Regions from separate parts of the Homo sapiens genome. Here region 2 is linked to region 1. A link means that fine-mapping ties the variant in region 1 to the plasma level of a protein whose gene starts in the linked region. Region 1 holds a variant in brackets. A gene starts in the other region. All regions are shown on their reverse strands.

Region 1 (9,266 bases):
CGCGCCATGATCCGGGGTCACCCCCGACCGTTCTTTGTTCGCCCCGGAACAGCGAATCCCGACTGCGGAGATAGGGAAACTGAGGTCCGGGCCCCGCACAGTCCGCGGCCGGCTGCCTACAGCTGGGAAAACTGAGGCCTGGACCTTGTACAGTCCGCGGCCGCCCGCCTACAGCTGGGGAAACTGAGGCCTGGACCTTATACAGTAGGCGGCCGCCCGCCTACAGCTGGGGAAACTGAGGCCTGGACCTTGTACAGTCCGCGGCCTCTCACCTACAGCTGGGGAAACTGAGGCCTGGACCTTGTACAGTCCGCGGCCGCCCGCCTACAGGTGGGGAAACTGAGGCCTGGACCTTGCAGTCCTTGGCCGCCCGCCTACAGCTGGGGAAACTGAGGCCTGGACCTTGTACAGTCCGCGGCCTCTCACCTACAGCTGGGGAAACTGAGGCCTGGACCTTGTACAGTGGGCGGCCGCCCGCTTACAGCTGGGGAAACTGAGGCCTGGACTTTGCACAGTCCGCGGCCAACCGCCTAAAGCTGGGGAAGCTGAGGTCCGGGCCACACACAGTCCACGGCCATCCGCCTACAGCTGGGGAAACTGAGGCCAAAGCCACACACAGTCCACGGCCATCTGCCTACAGCGGGGGAAACTGAGGCCCAGGCCACACACAGTCCACGGCCATCCGCCTACAGCTGGAGAAACTGAGGCCCGGGCTCCATACAATCCAAGGCCGCCCGCCTACAGGTGGGGAAACTGAGGCCCAAGCCACCCGCCTACAGCTGGGGAAACTGAGGCCCGAGCCCCCTACAGTCCCTGGCCCACTGACCTACAGCTGGGGAAACTGTGGCCTGGAGCTCGTACAGTTCGAGGCTGCCAGCCTACGGCTGGGGAAACTGAGGGCCAGGCCCAGCAGGGTCACCAGGAGGGTCCCTCCCGGGCCACCATCCCAGCAGCAGAAAACACCCTAAACTAATGTTCCCAGGAGCGCTGATCACATGAAGAGTCTGACAGAGCTGTGAGGGTGCCTGACGGGGAGGCCAGGTCAGCGGGTTGGGAGCCATCCCAGAGTGAGGGGATGACCCCGGCCCTCCACACTGGGACCCTCACGGGAGGCTGCGGTTGGAAACCGGAGCAGTTCCCGGCCCGGAGTAGACACTGCTCCCTAAATAGAATTAGCGGGATTTAGTCCATGCTGAAAAGGGGGTTTTTCATTAACACCAACCTACGGAGGGAGAAGACATGACAATTCTCGTTTCCCCAAATCCAGGCGAGCCTAGCGCCCTGCTTCTCTGGCGTGTTTTATTCCAGCAGTGCTGCGTTTCAGGCCGGGGCCTGGCGTGGGCCCAGGAGCCTTGGAGCCCCGCCGGGCGTC[T/C]GGTGCCAGAGGATTCCAGCCCGGATTAGGGGTGGCCGCCGAGCTCCATGGAGGCATCGCACGGCAAGGTCCTTTGGCCCGAACCACCCGGTCAACGGAGACTCACCAAGAGCCATCTGCAGCCAGGGTCACTCATCAGGAATGTCCGGTGGATCTGGGAGAAGCCCAGTGTGTTACTGTGGATTTGCTCCCCTGGAGACCCCCATCCTCACACCACCAGAACCAGCCGCTTCTGTCTGTTCGCGGAGTGCCTGGGATGGGCCCCGCCCTGAAAGCAGACAGGCAGGGGCGGCCGGGGGTCTGAGTGGCAGCTGGCAGCAGTAGAGACCACCAGGTTCCAAGCACCAGTCTAACCCTTCGGAATCGTGTTAAAACCCACTTCTGATCGTGGCCCCGCCAGGCCTCCTGTCTTGCTCAAAGTATAAACCCAAGGCCATCCCTTACCCCGCAAGCCCCACATGACCAGCCACCTGTCCAGTACCTTTTTTTATTTTTATTTTTTTAAGACAGTGTCTGGCCGGGTGCAATGGCTCACACCTGTAATCCCAGCACTCTGGCAGGCCGAGGTGAGTGGATCACCTGAGGTCAGAGTTCGAGACCAGCCTGGCCAACATGGAGAAACCTCCTCTCCACCAAAAATACAAAAATTAGCCAGGCGTGGTGGTGCATGCCCTATAATCCCAGCTCCTTGGGAGGCTGAGGCAAGAGAATCACTTGAACCCGGGAGGCGGAGGTTGCAGTGAGCCGAGATTGCGCCATTGCACTCCAGCCTGGGCAACAGGAGTGAAACTCTGTCTCTAAAAAACAAAAACGAAAATAAACACCTGTCATCCCAGCACTTTGGAAGGCCGAGGCAGGCGGATCACAAGGTGAAGAGCCTGAGACTATCCTGGCCAACATGGTGAAAGCCCGTTTCCACTAAAAATACAAAAATTTGCCGGGCGTGGTGGTTTGCTCCTGTAATCCCAGCTACTCGGGAGACTGAGGCGGGAGAATCACTTGAACGCGGGAGGCGGAGGTTGCAGTGAGCCTAGATTACGCCACTGTACTCCAGCCTGGGCAACAGAGTGACACGCTATCTCAAAAAAAAAAGTAAAAATAAAAAATAAAATGTATGTCGCGGAATTTAGGGTCTACCTGCAGACTCCAGGATGATCTCATCTCAAGACACTTAATGGTACCTTCAAAGACTGGTGTTCCAAATGAAGCCTTGTTCACGGGTTCCAGGGTTTAGGATGTGGTTGTCTTTCTTTGGGGCCACCTCTCAGCCCCTCAGCCCCACCCACCACCTGAAGCTTAGAGGGCGATAGCAGGTACAAGCAGGCCGTTTGTTTTTGCAATGGCGGCCTGGTCCCAGGAACCCCCCCCACCGCCTCCACCTCACCCAGGTCACCTGAAACCAGTGTCCTTCCTGGGCTGGCCTGACAGTAACCATGGCTGAGGGCCCAGCAATTTACAGGTCAGCTGTCATATGCAGAACGCCAGCGCGGGAAGACGCCCAGGGGCTCCCGTGGGCACCTGATTTATTTAGCGAGCAGGGCCCAGCCTCTGTCTTTTCTCCTCTCCTGTCTCCCATCCCAGCCCGCAGGCCAGCTGCCTCCTTCATGAATGATTCAGGGTGAGCGAGGAACAGGCTCACCTTGCCTTTGTGCGAGAATCACGTTGGTTTGCTGGTTACCATTTTGAAAATGATACTCTGAGCCTGGCAGGAGAAACGGGGGGGGGAGTGAGGACATCTGAGGCCCTCAGAGCCACCGAATCTCATGCAGAGGGCCTGCTGGGGCCTCAGACACCTTTCAGTTCTGATGGGGGAGGGAAGGGCCGTGCCTCAGTTTACTTCTTCGTCAACATGAGTGGCAGGGCCAGGCCGTCCCTCCTCCCCATGAGCAGTTCCATAGATTTATTTTTCCTTTTCCTTTTTTTTTGTTTTTTTTTTGGGGGGGATGGAACCTCACTCTATTGCCCAGGCTGGAGTACAGTGGCGCAATCTTGGCTCACTGCAACCTCTGCCTCCCGGGTTCAAGTGATTCTTCTGCGTCAGCCTCCTGAGTAGTTGGGATTACAGGTGCCTGCCACCACGCCTAGCTAATTTTTGTATTTTTATTCTTATTTTTTTATTTGATTTATTTTTTTCTTTTTCTGAGACGGCGTCTCGCTCTGTCGCCCAGGCTGGAGTGCAATGGCGTGATCTCAGCTCACTGCAACCTCCGCCTCCTGGGTTCAAGCGAGTCTCCTGCCTCAGCCTCCCGAGTAGCTGGGACTACAGGCGCCCACCACCATGCCCAGCTAATTTTTATACTTTTAATAGAGACGGGGTTTCAGCATGTTGGCCAGGATGGTCTCGATCTCTTGACCTTGTGATCTGCCCTCCTTGGCCTCCCAAAGTGCTGGGATTACAGGCCACCCTGTAATCCACCTGTGAGCCACCACACCCAGCCTAATTTTTGTATTTTTAGTAGAGATGGGGTTTCACTGTGTTGGCCAGGCTGGTCTCGAACTCCTGACCTCAGGTGATCTGCCCGCCTTGGTCTCCCAAAGTGCTGGGATGACAGGTGTGTGCCCGCACAGCCAGCACAGGTTTATTATCTTAATTACAAAAGTGAGGGCTCAGGGATCCAGGGCGCGGCCTCGGGCTGGTCTCCTGGGTGGTCTCCCAGCCTCTCCGGCCCATTTCCTGGATTTCTGTTGAACGGAGCTTGGAGTGGGGGTTCGGTGAGGCCACCCCAAGGCCTGATGGCCAGGACTCACGGACAGGAATGCATTGCTATTCCCTGGCCTCACTATACCCCATGCAGAACCACTTCCGTCCTGTGCTCTGTGCTCTGGGAATCAACTGCGGCTCGAGGCTGGTCCCGCCCCTCCAAGCTGGGACAGTGGGTTGGTATAGGAAGTAGAGATCCTAAAGGGAATGGGGGCTTTATTTATTTTTTGTTTATTTATTTTTTTGAGGCAGGGTCTCACTCTGTTGCCCAGGCTGGAGTGCAGAGGCACAGTCTCGGCTCCCCACAGCCCCAACCTCCCCAGCTCAGGTGATCCTCCCGCCTCAGCCTCTCGGTAGCTGGGGCTATAAGCAAGTAGTTCCACCACGCCTGGCTCATTTTAAAAAATGTTTTGTAGACACAGAATCTCACCGTGTTACCCAGGCTGGTCTCAAACTCCTGGGCTCAAGGGGTCCTCCTGCCTCAGCTGCCCAGTGTGCTGGGATGACAGGTGTGAGCTGCCACACCCGGCCTGAGAGGTCCTGTAAATTAGCCCCTCAACTCCTTTCTCCCCCACCCTCTCCAGTCTCTGTTCATCCCCCACCCCAAGAAGGACCCCTGTCCCTGCAAGGGGTGGTGGGCCCAAGGATCTGCCCCCGAATTATCAAAGTCACTTCTCAAGAGTCTTCTCATCCCAGGACACCTCCCTATGCCCAGACCTCAGGGAGACCAGCCTCTCCCCACCCCCACCCTGGGCCCTCAGGCCAACAGGAAAAGGCCACAGCGTTATCTGCCCAGACCCATCCTTCCCCACCCCATCCGCCTCTCCCCCAGGCCTGGCACCCCGCCATTCTGTGCTCCCCTCCCCAGCCTGACCCTCTTTCCCCACCCCACCCAGGGGAGTTCAGCTGGAGCTGGGCCCTGACCCTCCTCCCTACCCCCAGGGGAGTTCAGCTAGAGCTGGGCCCTGATCCTCCTCAATCCCCCCTAGAGCTGGGTCCTGAGCCTCCCCCCTCCCCCCTCCCCCCGGGGGAGTTCAGCTAGAGCTGGGCCCTGACCCTCCCCCGTCCCCTAAGAGGCCCTGTGGGTCTGAACTCAGGCAGAGAACTTGCTAGGAACTTCCAAAGAGGGTGCTGAGGTGCGTGGATCCCTGAGATCAGGAGTTCAAGATCAGCCTGGCCAACATGGGGAAACCCCGTCTCCCACTAAAAAAACAAAAATTATCTGGGCATGGTGGTGGGTGCCTGTAACCTCAGCTCCTCGGGAGACTGAGGCAGGAGAATTGCTTGAACTCAGGAGGCGGAGGTTGCAGTGAGCCGAGATGGGGCCATTGCACTCTAGCATGGGTGACGGAGCAAGACTCTGTCTCAAAAAAAAAAAAGAGGGGTGGGGCTTGGCTTGGGGATGTGCCAGCACTGGGGGCCGGCCCTCAGGAACCCCGCAATTCTCCTCCTATTCATGCCCCTGAGAGAAGGGGAAACACAAGTCCACACAGAAACGCGTACATGAACGTTCATCGTAGTGTTATTCACGGAGGCCACATGTGGAAACAGCCCAAATTCCCGTTAGTGGAAGAAAAGACCAACCCAGTGCCGGCCGTCCACCGCGGAACACAACTCAGCGTGAAAAGGATCCAGGCTCTGACCCAGGCCACAGCGCGGATGCACCTTAAGGACGTCACGCTCCGTGAGAGACGCCAGACACAGAAGGACACACAGCGTGTGATCCCATTTATTTTATTTTTTCGAGACAGAGTTTGGCTCTTGCTGCCCAGGCTGGAGTGCAATGGCACGATCTCAGTTCACTGCAACCTCTGCCTCCTGGTTCAATCAATTCTCCTGCCTCAGAGTCCCAAGGAGCTGAGATTGCAGGCACCCACCACCAAGCCCAGCTAATTTTTGTATTTTTAGTAGAGATGGGGTTTCACCATGTTGGCCAGGCTGGTCTCAAACTCCTGACCTCAGGTGATCCGCCCGCCTCGGCCTCCCAAAGTGCTAGGATGACAGGCGTGAGCCACCGCGCCTGGCCCCGTGTGATCCCATTTCTATGAAATATCCAGGCCAGGGGGGTGGGGGCTCACACCTGTCATTCCCAGCCCTTTGGGAAACCCAGGCGGGAGGATCCCTTGAGGCCAGGAGTTCAAGGCTGTAGTTAGCTGGGATCCCACCACTGCACTCCATCCTGGGCCACAGAGTGAGATCCCATCTCAAAAAATTAAATAAAGCCAGGCCCAGTGGCTCACGCCTGTAATCCTAGCACTTCGGGAGCCCGAGGCAGGCAGATCGCCTGAAAACCCTGTCTCGGCCGGGTGTGGTGGCTCATGCCTGTAATCCCAGCAGTTTGGGAGGCTGAGGTGGGTGGATCACCTGAGGTCGGGAGTTCAAGACCAGCCTGACCAACATGGTGAAACCCTTTCTCTACTAAAAATACAAAATTAGCCAGGTGTGGTGGTGCATGCCTGTAATCCCAGCTACTCGGGAGGCTGAGGCAGGAGAATCGCTTGAACCTGGGAGGCGGAGGTTGCAGTGAGCTGAGATCGCACCATTGCACTCCAGCCTGGTGACAGAGTAAGACTCTGTCTCAAAAAAAAAAAAAAAGGAAAGGATGGAGTGAAGTGGGTAGTTGTTCATGCCTATAATCCCATCACTTCGGGAGGGCGAGGCACGAGGATTGCTTGAGGCCAGGACTTTGAAACCACCCTGGGCAACATGGCAAAACCCTGTATAAACAAAAGTCAAAGAATCAGCTGGGCGTGGTGGTGCACGCCTGTGGTCTCAGCTATTCAGGAGGCTAAGGCCGTAGTCTCACCAGAGCCCAGGAGATGGAGGCTGCAGTGAACCGAGATTTCGCCACTGCACTCCAGCCTGGATGACAGGGCAAAATCCAGTCTCTAAAGCAACAGAAAAAGCAAATAAACAAATAAGGAAGGGGGGGCAGGGGTCTTTCTGTCAAGTGACCACCCACAGCAGCTTGTGGTTCGGACGGAGACGCAGGGCCTACTGGGTCCCTGCTCCTGCTGGGAGGTCCTGCGGGCAATGAGCTGTGTTAGAAGCCAGGGGTTGCCGACGATGGACATGAAACAGGTACAGGACAGGGCGCCGCCGGGAGCTGCAGCCAGCCCCGCAGGAAACAGCCGCAGCCAGAGAGAAAGGCAGGAAGGGCCCGGGAGGGTCAGGAAGGCCTCGCTGAGGAGGCAGAATTTGATCTGAGGGGGAAGGGCCGGCCACAAAGGCAAACTCCCCGGGGTGGGGTGAATTGAGTTCCCTCAAAGATCTGTCTTTGCGTGAACCCCAGGCACCTACAAATGGGACCTTATGTGGAAATAGGGTTTCTGCAGATGTAATTAGTTAGGATGAGATCATTAGGGCGGGCACCACCGCAGTGACAGGCGACTTCGGGAGACAAGGGAAATTTGGACACAGATGCAGAGGAGACCGCCGTGGGGCAGCAGAGGCAGAATTGGGAGGGAAGCGGCCGCAAGTCCAGGAGGGTCAGAGGTGGCTGTCGGCACCAGGAGCTGGAAGAGGCCGGGAGGGTACTCGCCTGGCACCTTGCACACCTTCACTTCAGACTTCCGGCCTCCAGAGACGAGAGTGTATTTGTGTTGTTTTAAGCCGCACAGCCTGCTTACCTGGTCCCAGCAGGCCCCGGAAGCCCATTCATCCTGCGGGGACTTAGGCCAGCCAGGCGTGCTGGGGCCTCGTGTGGTGATGGGGATGGGAGACAGACGTGGGCCAGAGCGCTGGCCCCCCTCCACGGCCTTGCAAAATTTATTAAAAGGAAGATGTCTCCATAGGGAGAGGGAACGTGAGCCGGGCTGTCAGTGATCCAGCAGCCATCTGCTCACCAGCCCGACCACAGGGTCAGCGGCCTGCAGAGTGGGGGTGGGGCGGGGGCACAGAGGGATGGCAGGCCCCGCTGCACGCTCCCCCGGGAGTGGAGACCCCAGCCCTGCAGGCTGCTGCGCCCAGGCCTTGTTCTGGGGAACACTCTGTCTCCAGTGTCCTCTAGAACTCGGCGTTTTATCCATGGCAGGTGGAAGGTCTGCTCTTTGTAAAACAATAATAAAGTCAGGCCAGGCGCGGTGGCTCACGCCTGTGATCCCAGCACGTTGGGTGACTGAGGCGGGTGGATGCCCTGAGGTCAGGAGTTCGAGACCAGCCTGGCCAACAGGGCAAAAGCCTGTCTCTACCAAAGATATAAAAATTAGCTGGGTGTGGTAGCATACACATGTAATCCCAGCTACTCGGGAGGCTGAGGCAGGAGAATTATTATTTGAACCCAAGAGGCGGAGGTTGCAGTGAGCTGAGATCACGCCACTGCACTCCAGCCTGGGTGACAGAGTGAGACTCTCTCTCTCTCTCAAAAAAAATGAGTAAATCGAGGCCGGGCGCGGTGGTTCACGCCTGTCATCCCAGCACTTTGGGAGGCTGAGGCGGGCAGATCACGAGGTCAGGAGACCGAGACCATCCTGGCGAACACGGTGAAACCCCGTCTCTACTAAAAATACAAAAAAATTACCCGGGCGTGGTGGTGGGTGCCTGTAATCCCAGCTACTTGGGAGGCTGAGGCAGGAGAATCGCTTGAGCCCGAGAGGCAGAGGTTGCAGTGAGCCAGGATCACACTAATGCAGTCCAGCCTGGACAACACAGTGAGACTCGGTATCAAATAAATAAAAATAAAAGTACATAAATAAAAACCTCACAGTGACCCTGACATTGTGTCTCCCCAGAGGTCAGGCCTCCATTGTGAGGGGATGTGGGATCCCGATAGGAAGCTAATTTTGGAGGGAACCAGGCCTAGAAGGAAAAGAGCCCCAGGCGGGCCCAGGATGGAGGCGGAGCAGACGCCCTCCAGGCCGCAGCTGCCCCGGGCTTCATTACAGGGAACCCAGGACACCGTAGCCAAGCCCGGAGCTCCTGGAGGTGACTGCTCAGGCATCAATAGTTTATAGCAGGAAACGACACTTGGTCTCAGGTCACCCACAGCCGGCTCGGGTGGCCTGGGGCTGGGCCCTGGGGCTGGAGTGGAGGCTGTATCACAGGTACCAGTTTGCTCTGGTTTTGATGGGCCTGTGGGCCATGGCGGCTCAGGTGCTTGTGCAAGGAGGGCTTTGGGGCCGGGCGCGTGGCTCCCACCTGTGATCCCAGCACTTTGGGAGGCCGAGGTGGGCGGATGGTTTGAGCCCAGGAGTT
Region 2 (9,355 bases), not on the chromosome of region 1:
AAATAGTATATCATTACATTCATATGAGATACTTAGAGTAGTCAAAATCATAGAGATAGAAAGTGGAATGGTGTTTGCCAGGGGCTAGGGGCAGGGGAAAATGAGGAGTTATTGTTTAATGGGTACAGAGTTTCAGTTTTACAAGATAAAAAGAGTTATGGGGATGGATGGTGATGATGGTTGCACAGCATTATGAATGTATTTCGTAACACTGAACTGTGTACTTAAAAATGATTAAGATGGTAAATTTTATGTGTATTTTATAATAAAAAATTGAAAAAAACACAGGCACTGAAACTTTAATCTCCAAATGTTTAAATATATACAAATACATGTGAACTGTGTGTGTATACAACATGCCTAGACATATATATGATTAAGTGATGATTATACTACTTGTAAAGGTCTCTAACAGCTCTTCGTGTATAACTTCAACATAGTGTAGTGTTTAAGAGCACAGACTCTGGAGCCTGACTGCCTGAGTTTATATCCCACCTCTACTACTTGCCAGCAGGCAAATTACTTAACCTCTCTATTTCTCAGTTTTCTCATCTCTAATATGAGGATAATAATAGTAACCTCTTGCAAAGGGTTATTATGAGGATTAAATGAGTTAATACAAGCAATGTGCTTAGAATAGTGCCCACAGGCAGCAAGTGCTATGTGTTAGCTATCTGCTTTATTTCTTTAAGACAAAACAATTCTAAAGAGTTGCTTTTTTTTTTTTTTTTTGGAGACGGAGTCTCGCTCTGTTACCCAGGCTGGAGTGCGCTGGTGTGATCTTAGCTCACTGCAAACTCTGCCTCCTGGGTTCAAGCGATTCTCCTGCCTCAGCCTTCCGAGTAGTTGGGATTACAGGTGTGCACTGCCACGCCTGGCTAATTTTTGTATTTTTAGTAGAGACTGGGTTTCGCCATGTTGGCCAGGCTGGTCTCGAACTCCTGACCTCAAGTGATCCACCCACCTCGGCCTCCCAAAGTGCTGGGATTACAGGTGTGAACCACTGTGCCTGGCCAGGGTTGCTTTGGTTTTCTGTTGAATTGATATGTGTCCCTGGCCTTTGAGACAGAACAAGTATCCCTTCTACCTGATAAGCTTCCCTTAGGCACCTAATTTCAACCATGTCTTGGGGATTGCACCACTGACTTCAGAAAAGGGAGTAGGAAGGGACCCAAGTATGTCTGTATCTAAACCTCAAATCCCAAGTCTGTACAGTCATCTAGCACAACATCCTATTTAAATTAAGAGTTAACACAATCTACTATTTCATAAGAAGGCATTTTGCTTAGCTTATAGCTTTTGCTCTCGCCTGTCCAATCACAGCAGCTAGCAGAGGCATGCACATTTTGGGAAAAGTTAAGGAAATCACAAGAGTCATATATGAGTCATCTGTCCCTTCCCTTACATCCACTCAGGCATCAACTCCTGTTCGTTTTTTTCTTCCAACATCTTTCTTAGTTACCCCAATCATGCAAATATGCTCTGTTGTGCCCCACCAGGTGGGAAGATACCAGTAAGTCATGGTCCTGGACAGGAAGGGTTCGCAGCACATTTTTCTAGTGGAGACCTGCAACCATAGATTCTTATGTAGCTTCACACTCCAGGGGCTCCCCTACCCAGTGAAGTCTCCCTGCTTGCTTCCTCCTTCTGTGTTATTTTTCCCATGCTGTGCCGGACTCAGAGCTTTCAAGGGCAAATCAAGCTATTCTGCCTGGATTGACTTTACCAATGCACTCTCCTGCCAAGCCAGGTTCCTTCTTGACCACAAAGGAGCACTCTTGCCCTCATTTCTGGGTCTCTGCTCCTGCTATTGCCCCCACCTGGAATAAATTCTCCACCTACTCAAATCCCAGTCATCCAGAAGATCTAGCTCAAGTTTTACCTCTTCCATAACACTACCAACCGTCAGCTTTTTCTCTTTTGAATGCCTATAGTACTAGTTGTTTGGACCACACAGCCCAGCCACTATAAAGCCAGTCTCCAATGTAGTATCATTCGCTTCTTTTTTTGTTTTGAGACAGTCTTGCTCTGTCGCCCAGGCTGAAGTGCAGTGGCCTGATCTTCCCTCACTGCAACCTCTGCCTCCCAGGATCAAATGAGTCTCATGCCTCAGCTTCCTGAGTAGCTGGGATTACAGGCATGTAATCCCACACTCGGCTAATTTTTGTATTTTTAGTAGACGGGGTTTTGCCATGTTGGCCAGGCTCAAACTCCTGGCCTCAAGTGATCCATCTGCCTCAGTCTCCTAAAGTGCTGGGATTACAGGCATGAGCCACTGCACCCGGCCTAATATAGTATCATTAGCTTCTTAACAAATGGCTTGCACATACTTTCGTGGGTCCCAAGCCGTCCTGCCCTGCTACCCTGGGAGGTGTCCAGCTAAGGACTCTCGTCTTTTCTGCTGGGCAGAAGCAATGAGTACAGTGGTTAAGGGCATGGCCTCTGGAATCAGGCTGCCAGGGTTGGAAACCTAGCTCTTCCACTTTGCCAGGTATGCGAATTTGGGCAAGGGTCTTGGTCGCACTGTGCCTCAACTTTTTCGTGTACAAAATGGGACTAATAACAGCACCTACAAGTTATATTATTGGTAAAGATTAAATGAAATAGTACAAGTAAAGCAGCTAGAAAACTGCTGGGCATAAATGCTATATACATGCTAGTTATAATTAAGACATGCCACAATGTGGGCCATTGAGTGGGACAGGTTAAACTAAGCTAGTAATCTAATCACTTTTATAAACACTCTGAGGATTAGAGCTGGAGGAGCTCTTAGAATTTATGCAGTTCAACCTCCTCATTTCACAGATGAGAAAACTAACTGCAGCACAAAAGAGAGGAAATGACCAGCCCAGAGTCCCACAGGTGGTAAATATCAGAACCACTAAAACTCAAGTCTCACTGGAAACATCTAATTTTTTCCCACCATACCTCAATGCAATTCTATCAATACTTTTAATGGGGAAAGAAGTTTGTTTTCTAAATAAGCAAGCTAACGACAAACCATTGTGACAGGACTGATGAAGTTGGGAGTTGCCAGTATTCTCTAGATGGCCAGCTGTTGTTTCAGGTGTGTGTGGGAGTGAGTCTGTAGGAGGGAGGGTGCTGGAGTGGCACTGTGAAAATCAGGAGACTAATGAGACGGGTAACTTTAGACAAGTTCCTTCCCTTCTCTGGACTGCAATGTCCCCATATGATTACGGAAATCAGGTGTACCCAACTAAACTAGAGGCCCTTTTGGGGCAAGAATTTTGCTATACACTCTCAGGTTCTAAGTCAACCTAGAGGGCCTGACTCAGTACTAAATAAGGCAGACACCTGAATAATTATTGACTGACAAGCTTCAAGTCTCCCTCAGGTCTCTACTCAAATGCCACCTTTCAGCAACATTTGTTTTCTTCTCGATCCACCCTTTTTACAATGGCAAACCCCTTCCCACCTGCTCTGTTTTTCTCTACTTAACACCCTCAGACATATCATATATTTTACCCCCACCCCCCGATATGTCTGAGGGCAGGCACCTCATCTGTTTTGCTCACTGCTGCATCCTCAGCCCCTAAACACTGCCTGGCAGCATGTATTTTATTGACTGAATCCATAGAGGGCATTAAGGTTTCCTAATCAACATTTCAACTTGGATTTCAAAGCACATTGGTAAAAATGCAATAAGCATATATAAGTGTTTGTGTCAATGTGATAATAAAACCTATACAGTTTGGGGCTTTCATTGTCACCAAAAACGTCCAGAAGGCCATTCCTTCCAGGAGCTGCTCCTAAGGAAGTCATTAACTCCCAATTTTTCACAACTGCCAGGTTGATTAACTAGAAGTTACCAAACAGGGTGAGGGATATACACAACTCTCTGAAGTATCTTTGCAACTTTTCCATAAATCTACAATTACCCTAAAATATAAGGTTTATTAAAGAGAGTGGGGTGGGGGGAGCATCTGCCGGGATGCTATTCTGGATTTCCCAAAGGATTTCTTCGACGCCAGAGGAGGTCATGAGCGTCACGTCCTTTTTCAACAAGGACTGAGATGTTTAGAGGTTCCCTTCAACTTCCACTCGCAAGAGCCACCCTTAGACAGTGAGGATTGGCGCGGCCTCGGGCAAAGAGCCCCGGCGCGTTCTCAGCTCGCCTGGACTTCGGTCGTGGTCCCCGCCGGCTCTGGCGCCTCATTTCCTCCCGGGCTCACAGGCGACATTCCGGGCGCTGACCCACGGCCCTCTGACGCCGTGGGCATGTTTCGGGCCCCCCGCCCCCGCACGCCTGGACGCCAGCCTCCTGGGCTCTTCCCACTACAAGTCGCAGCCCTCTTACTTCGCTGCCGCCACCTCCGCCGCACCCGGAGTTCGGGAAAACCCCGCAGCTCCCGGGTCCCACCTCGAACCGGCCCCAGTACCGGGCCCCAGAGATCCCGCGCGGGAAGCCGCAGCCGCCGAGCGCGGGGCCTCGCGAGGGCAGCCCCCAGCACCCACCCCAGCTTCGGCCCTCCGCCCGGCGTTGACCTCCGGGGCCTTTCAGCCGTGACCCTCACCGCCCTCAGCCCTCCGGCCGCCCCTCGGGCCCCGAGGGTCGCACTCACCCGTAGGCGCGGCGCCCCCGCCCCCGCCCCCGCCGCCGGCGCAGAGCAGCAGCGCCCACAGCCCGCAGAGCCGCGCCGGCCACTCCATGCAGCCTCTCGCCTCGGAGCCCGGCCGGGCTGGAGCCTTGGCAGTCCCCGCCTCCTTCGCTCCCTCTTCCACTTCCCGGCTCCGCCGCCCTGGAGGCTGGGGGCCGGCGCAGACGGGAAGGGCCGCCCCGCCCACCGGCCTCAGGTAACCTGAGCCGGCGAGAGCGGCCGGAGGAGGCGGGGCGGGGCGCCGGCGGCTCTGGCGGCTCTGGCGGCTCCTACGGCTCCCAAGGCTGGACACCTGGCCCACCCGCAGCTCCCGCGTCCGGTCTCTGACCGAACAAAACTTCTTCCACCACGTCGCCGCCCACTCCGGGCGCTGCCTGGGCCTCCTCCCTCCGCGTGGCGGAGCCGGCGTCGCCGCTGCCAGCACACTTGCGGGGCCTCGGAGGTGCTAGGGGCTGTGCCCTGCTGGACACCAGGACAGAGTCATCTGCGGAAAAGAGCCTTGGCCTGGGAGTCTGGAGACCTGGCTTCCAGCCCTTGACCTCTGAGCCCTTGTTTGCTAGCGCTGACTCCAGGGTTAGTAATACCAGCCCTACTTCACTGGGTGGAGTTGGGGACACTGGCAGTACTGTGCTTTGTGAAAAGGACAAAGGGCATATTTGAAAGCTGGCAATACATAATGTTGATTTTAAAAGGAACATTCCAAACATGAGGGAGGATACCATACGTGCATTTTTTAAAGCACACGACAAACTTTCTACATATTTTTCAAAGGGATGGGAGGTGAATCGGAAGAATACACATTGATACTTGGGCGCCTATGAGGGTCAGTGAGGCTGGGAGGAAGGAAAACAAGAGTCCTTAGGCGTTTCCTGTTGCTGCTGTCAAAAATGACCACAAATTTAGTGATTTAACAGTTTTATTTTATTACAGTTCTGGAGGTCAGAAGTGACACTGAGCTTAAATCAAGGTGTGGGCAGAGATGTATTCCTTCTGGATATTCTAGGGGAGAATCTGTGTCTTTGACTTTTCCAGCTTCTAGAGGCTACCCACATTCCTTGGCTTGTTGCGGAACTACTCAGACCTCTGCTTCCCTTGTCGTATCTGACTCTGACCCTCTTACTTCCCCTTTTCCCTTATAAATACCCTTGTGATTAGATTAGGTCCACCAGATAATTCATAATAATCTCCCCATCTCAAAATCCTTGATTTAATCATAACTGAAAAGTCATTTTTGCTATGTAAGTTAACATATTCACAGGTGTTGGGGATCACGATATGGAATCATGGGAGGGGGACATTATTCTATCACCTTCTCCCAAAAAAGAATCATGTCTAGGTGGATGATGAGACCCATAATGAGGTGTATTTTGGCCGAATTAAGCCAATGCATATACCTGAAAACAGTTACAAAAAGTATAGCAATAAAAATGCTGATAATATACCTAGTCTAGACCCCACCCAAAGGGCACAGGGTTGTTTAACCTATTCACAACAAAGGTTCCACTCTTGGAATTAAGGCTCTCAAACTCAATAAATATTTATGAAATTGTTCCAGGAACTGTTGAAGACACTCACCAAAAGCAAGCTCTGCTAACAGAAAGCTGCAGTCAGTCTGAGGGGCAATGATAAGGGCAAGAACAAGGAATTATGGGATACAAAAAGGGTACCTTTTGGGAGGGAAGGAGCAAGGGAAGCTTCCAGGAGGAGGGCCTGCCTGTGCTGAATCTCAGGATGTTGATTCTTTTGGCTAACGGTTCAGAATAAATTCCAGAATCCAGGCATGGTGGCATGCACCTGTAATCCCAGCTATTCTGGAGGCTGAGGTGGAAGGATCACCTGAGCCCAGGAGTTCAAAACCAGCCTGGGTCTGTAACAGAGTGAGACCCCGTTCTCAAAAAAAAAAAAAATAAATCCTGGCTTGCATGTGTTATCGAACAAAATAATGTTTATGAAAACAGTTTGTAAAGTATCAAGGCCTGTAGAACTGAGAGATAGTATCATTATTTCTAAATCCCTCCCACAAATAGGTCAGCCACTGTGTATCCCAAGGCCTTTCCTCCACCACCACGGACATATACACTTGTTGACATTTGCTATAAACATTATACAATAAGTTTATAATAACGTTTCCAAAATGGTTATGTCATCTGCCTTTTAAGGAGTCTTTAGTTGGAACAGGAGCCCCTGGGGACTGGCTGAGTGCCATCATGGGCACTGCTTGGCATAGATTGACCAAGCGCTTAATAAAACAGTAATGGTAGCAAATGATTAGAAAAATAGGGATTGCAGCTTGTCATGAGCTTCCAGAAAAGCCCTGAGAATCTGAACATCGTGAGGAAAAAAAACAAACGGCAGTGTGGAGAGGGGAGAGACCTGATTTCTTTTCACCAAGATAGTTCCGGCCTGCTGGCCTTAAGACTATATTGTTACTTTCCTTTCTTCCCGACCCTGAACATCATGCAACGATTTTTCAAATTTTTGGAAGGGGGTGGAAAGAGTCAGGAATGCTGTTTCTTCAACATAAAACTTGTATTTGTAATCTCCGTGTAGTGTGATTCGAAGAGCGTCTTGGATTGAATCAGGCCACTGCCCTGGTCTGCAGGAAGAATGAAGACAGATAGAAGGCTTTCCAGGAACTGCAGTAGACAAGGAGCTTTCAGTTTGGCTTTGTGTAAATCAAAATCATGATGAGTCAACATCAAGTTTAACCCTTAGAGTCCTGATGACTTGGGTGCGAGACTACCAGTGGCCTTTCTTTCACTTTGGCCCGGGGTGGCTGGAGTTCTGCGCTGCCCTGTGTACCTAGGCCACTCCACTCAACTGTTTTGACCTTTGCCCTTCTCACTAAGTCTTCGTCCATTTCTGTAACTGGAGGCTGAAAAGGGCATATGCAAGAAAATGTCTGGCAGGAAAGAATGATGTCCCTCTTTCCAAAGTCAGGTGTCCTTCCATCCATTTAGAGACACCTTCCTGAGTCCAAAAGGGACACAGACACCAGCATATTCCAAGGGCTTAGCTAAAAGTGCTGGTCCCTTAGACAAAAATCTCACAAAGAGTCCTCTAAGCAAAACCTCACACCACTGCAAAACAAAGAAAAAGGAGAAGTTGAAAACAGGGAATTTCCCTCCCGATTCTGGATCAGTGGCCCCCAACCAGGGGCAATTTTACATCCCAGGGGACATTCGGCAATATGGAGAGATATTTTTGGTTGTCATGACTGAAGCGGGGGCATGCTTCTGGAATGCAGTGAGTAGAGGCTGGGGATGCTGCTGTTAATACAATGCACACGACCGCCCCCACAACAAAGACTTACTCTACTCAAGATGACAACAGCGCCAAAGGTGAGAGAGATCCTAAGCTAGAATACTCTTTGTTGTCTTTTGTATTTGGTCCCCACCCACCCACTGTCCCCCATGCCTGGCCAAAATTAGAGATGAATGCTAAAAGTATGTACTCTTGACAACTCCCTTTCCTGTATCTCGTACCCCCAGTTCCCCATCCACTGTCTAGTCCTGCAGTCACTGATTAGATGGTAAAACATCTCTCAGATCTATTCCTCCCCCGACCACCCAGTTTCGCCTCTATGGTTCTATTTCAGGACTTTATTACCATTCCAGAAACAGTCTTCAAACTGGCCATGAGGGTCTACCCTTTACAAGACAGATCTTCCCAATGAGCAATCTGTCCATGTCACTCCTCAGCTTAAGCTTAAGTGACACCCCTCCCTTCATCAAATGCCACAAAAGGCAGTCTCAACTCCTCTGCCTGCAGGCTTGCCTCTTCAGGTTAGATTCCCCACACTCTTCCTAGCTTCACTTCCAGCCAAGCTTCCAGGTTCCAGGTGGCTGACTGGCCACCTTCAGGCTGAATCTCCCTTGTGAGCAATTGTGTTTGGTCCATATCATGTTGGAATTCATGGGGATCTAGATGCCAAAGTGTTTTTTTTAAGTCAGGAGATTTTGCCTAAGGCCCCAGATTTCCAGCTTCTCTTAATAAATCAAAAGTCCTGGTAATATTGGACCTGTTTCAGTGTAGAAACCGTCAGCAGATGTCAGATGGGCTGCCACCTTGTTAACAGGGCATGTACTTCCTGTCTGCACATGCCCTAGGGCTCCCTATTGCTCCCTGGCCTAGTCAGCGTTTCCTCACTTATGACTTGCCCGGTTCTTGTTTGTCACCTGTGATATTTTCTCACTGCAAACCTTTTATCTTGCTGTTCCCTTTATCTAAAATGCTTTTCCATTTCTCAAGTGTCACATTTTTTAGGGGCTTCTCTAACTCCCAAATGCAAAATTCTTTGCTCCCTCCTGTGTGTGTGCTCATAGCACCAGACACGTTCCTCTATCATATCAAATCACACAGAGGTTTGTGTGCATGTCTATTTCTGCCACTGGATTCAAGCTCCTGGAGGTCAGACTGTCCAGGGTGACTCCAGGTTTTCTACCTAGGAGGAGCTTAGTGGTGGTAATCTGATTGGAAGGAACAATCCCCAGGGGCCTTGTCTTGGAGCCATGTATGTACAGCAAGAGCTCTACTCTTACTTAGATTCTGAGTGGATTGAGTCGGGGGAGCTTGGAGAAAGGCATCCTCTGGCACCACAGAGAATATAAAGATGAATGGAACATGGTTAGTGGCTCATAACTCATTCTCAATGTTTGGGTTTAATTGAATTAAAGGTCCTTGCTCTTCAGCAGGTGGTTTTCTTCTACAGTTTTAGTGGAGTTCACTCAAGGGAG

Direction of the effects. Positions count from the first base shown, and alleles are read on the strand shown. Strength reflects both the effect of a copy and how common the allele is.
As copies of T replace C in region 1, the plasma level of the protein whose gene starts at base 4,704 in region 2 goes down (weak association).

The links. A credible set is the group of variants that fine-mapping cannot tell apart. PIP is the chance, under the fine-mapping model, that this variant and not a neighbour inherited with it causes the effect. Protein levels are from antibody-based Olink assays in UK Biobank. Linkage for the fine-mapping came from a reference panel and not from the study's own genotypes, which makes the PIPs less certain.
Region 2: it holds the start of IL13RA1, and the variant in region 1 is the best candidate, but not a certain one, in a credible set for the plasma level of the IL13RA1 protein (UK Biobank, PIP 0.75).

What each region holds. Positions count from the first base shown.
Region 1 is chr19:787,564-796,829 of GRCh38, reverse strand. No RefSeq gene overlaps it. Among named protein-coding and RNA genes, the nearest start is that of PTBP1, 5.3 kb to the left of the region's middle. RefSeq lists enhancers at 1-259, 8,515-9,083, 9,084-9,266 and cis regulatory regions at 4,115-4,264, 4,562-5,632. The variant T/C (reference allele first, on the strand shown) is at 1,373.
Region 2 is chrX:118,722,955-118,732,309 of GRCh38, reverse strand. It overlaps IL13RA1 (interleukin 13 receptor subunit alpha 1), which reads right to left and starts at 4,704. Exons shown (of 11, transcript NM_001560.3): 1 at 4,584-4,704. The coding sequence starts at 4,671. RefSeq lists a silencer at 4,666-5,095.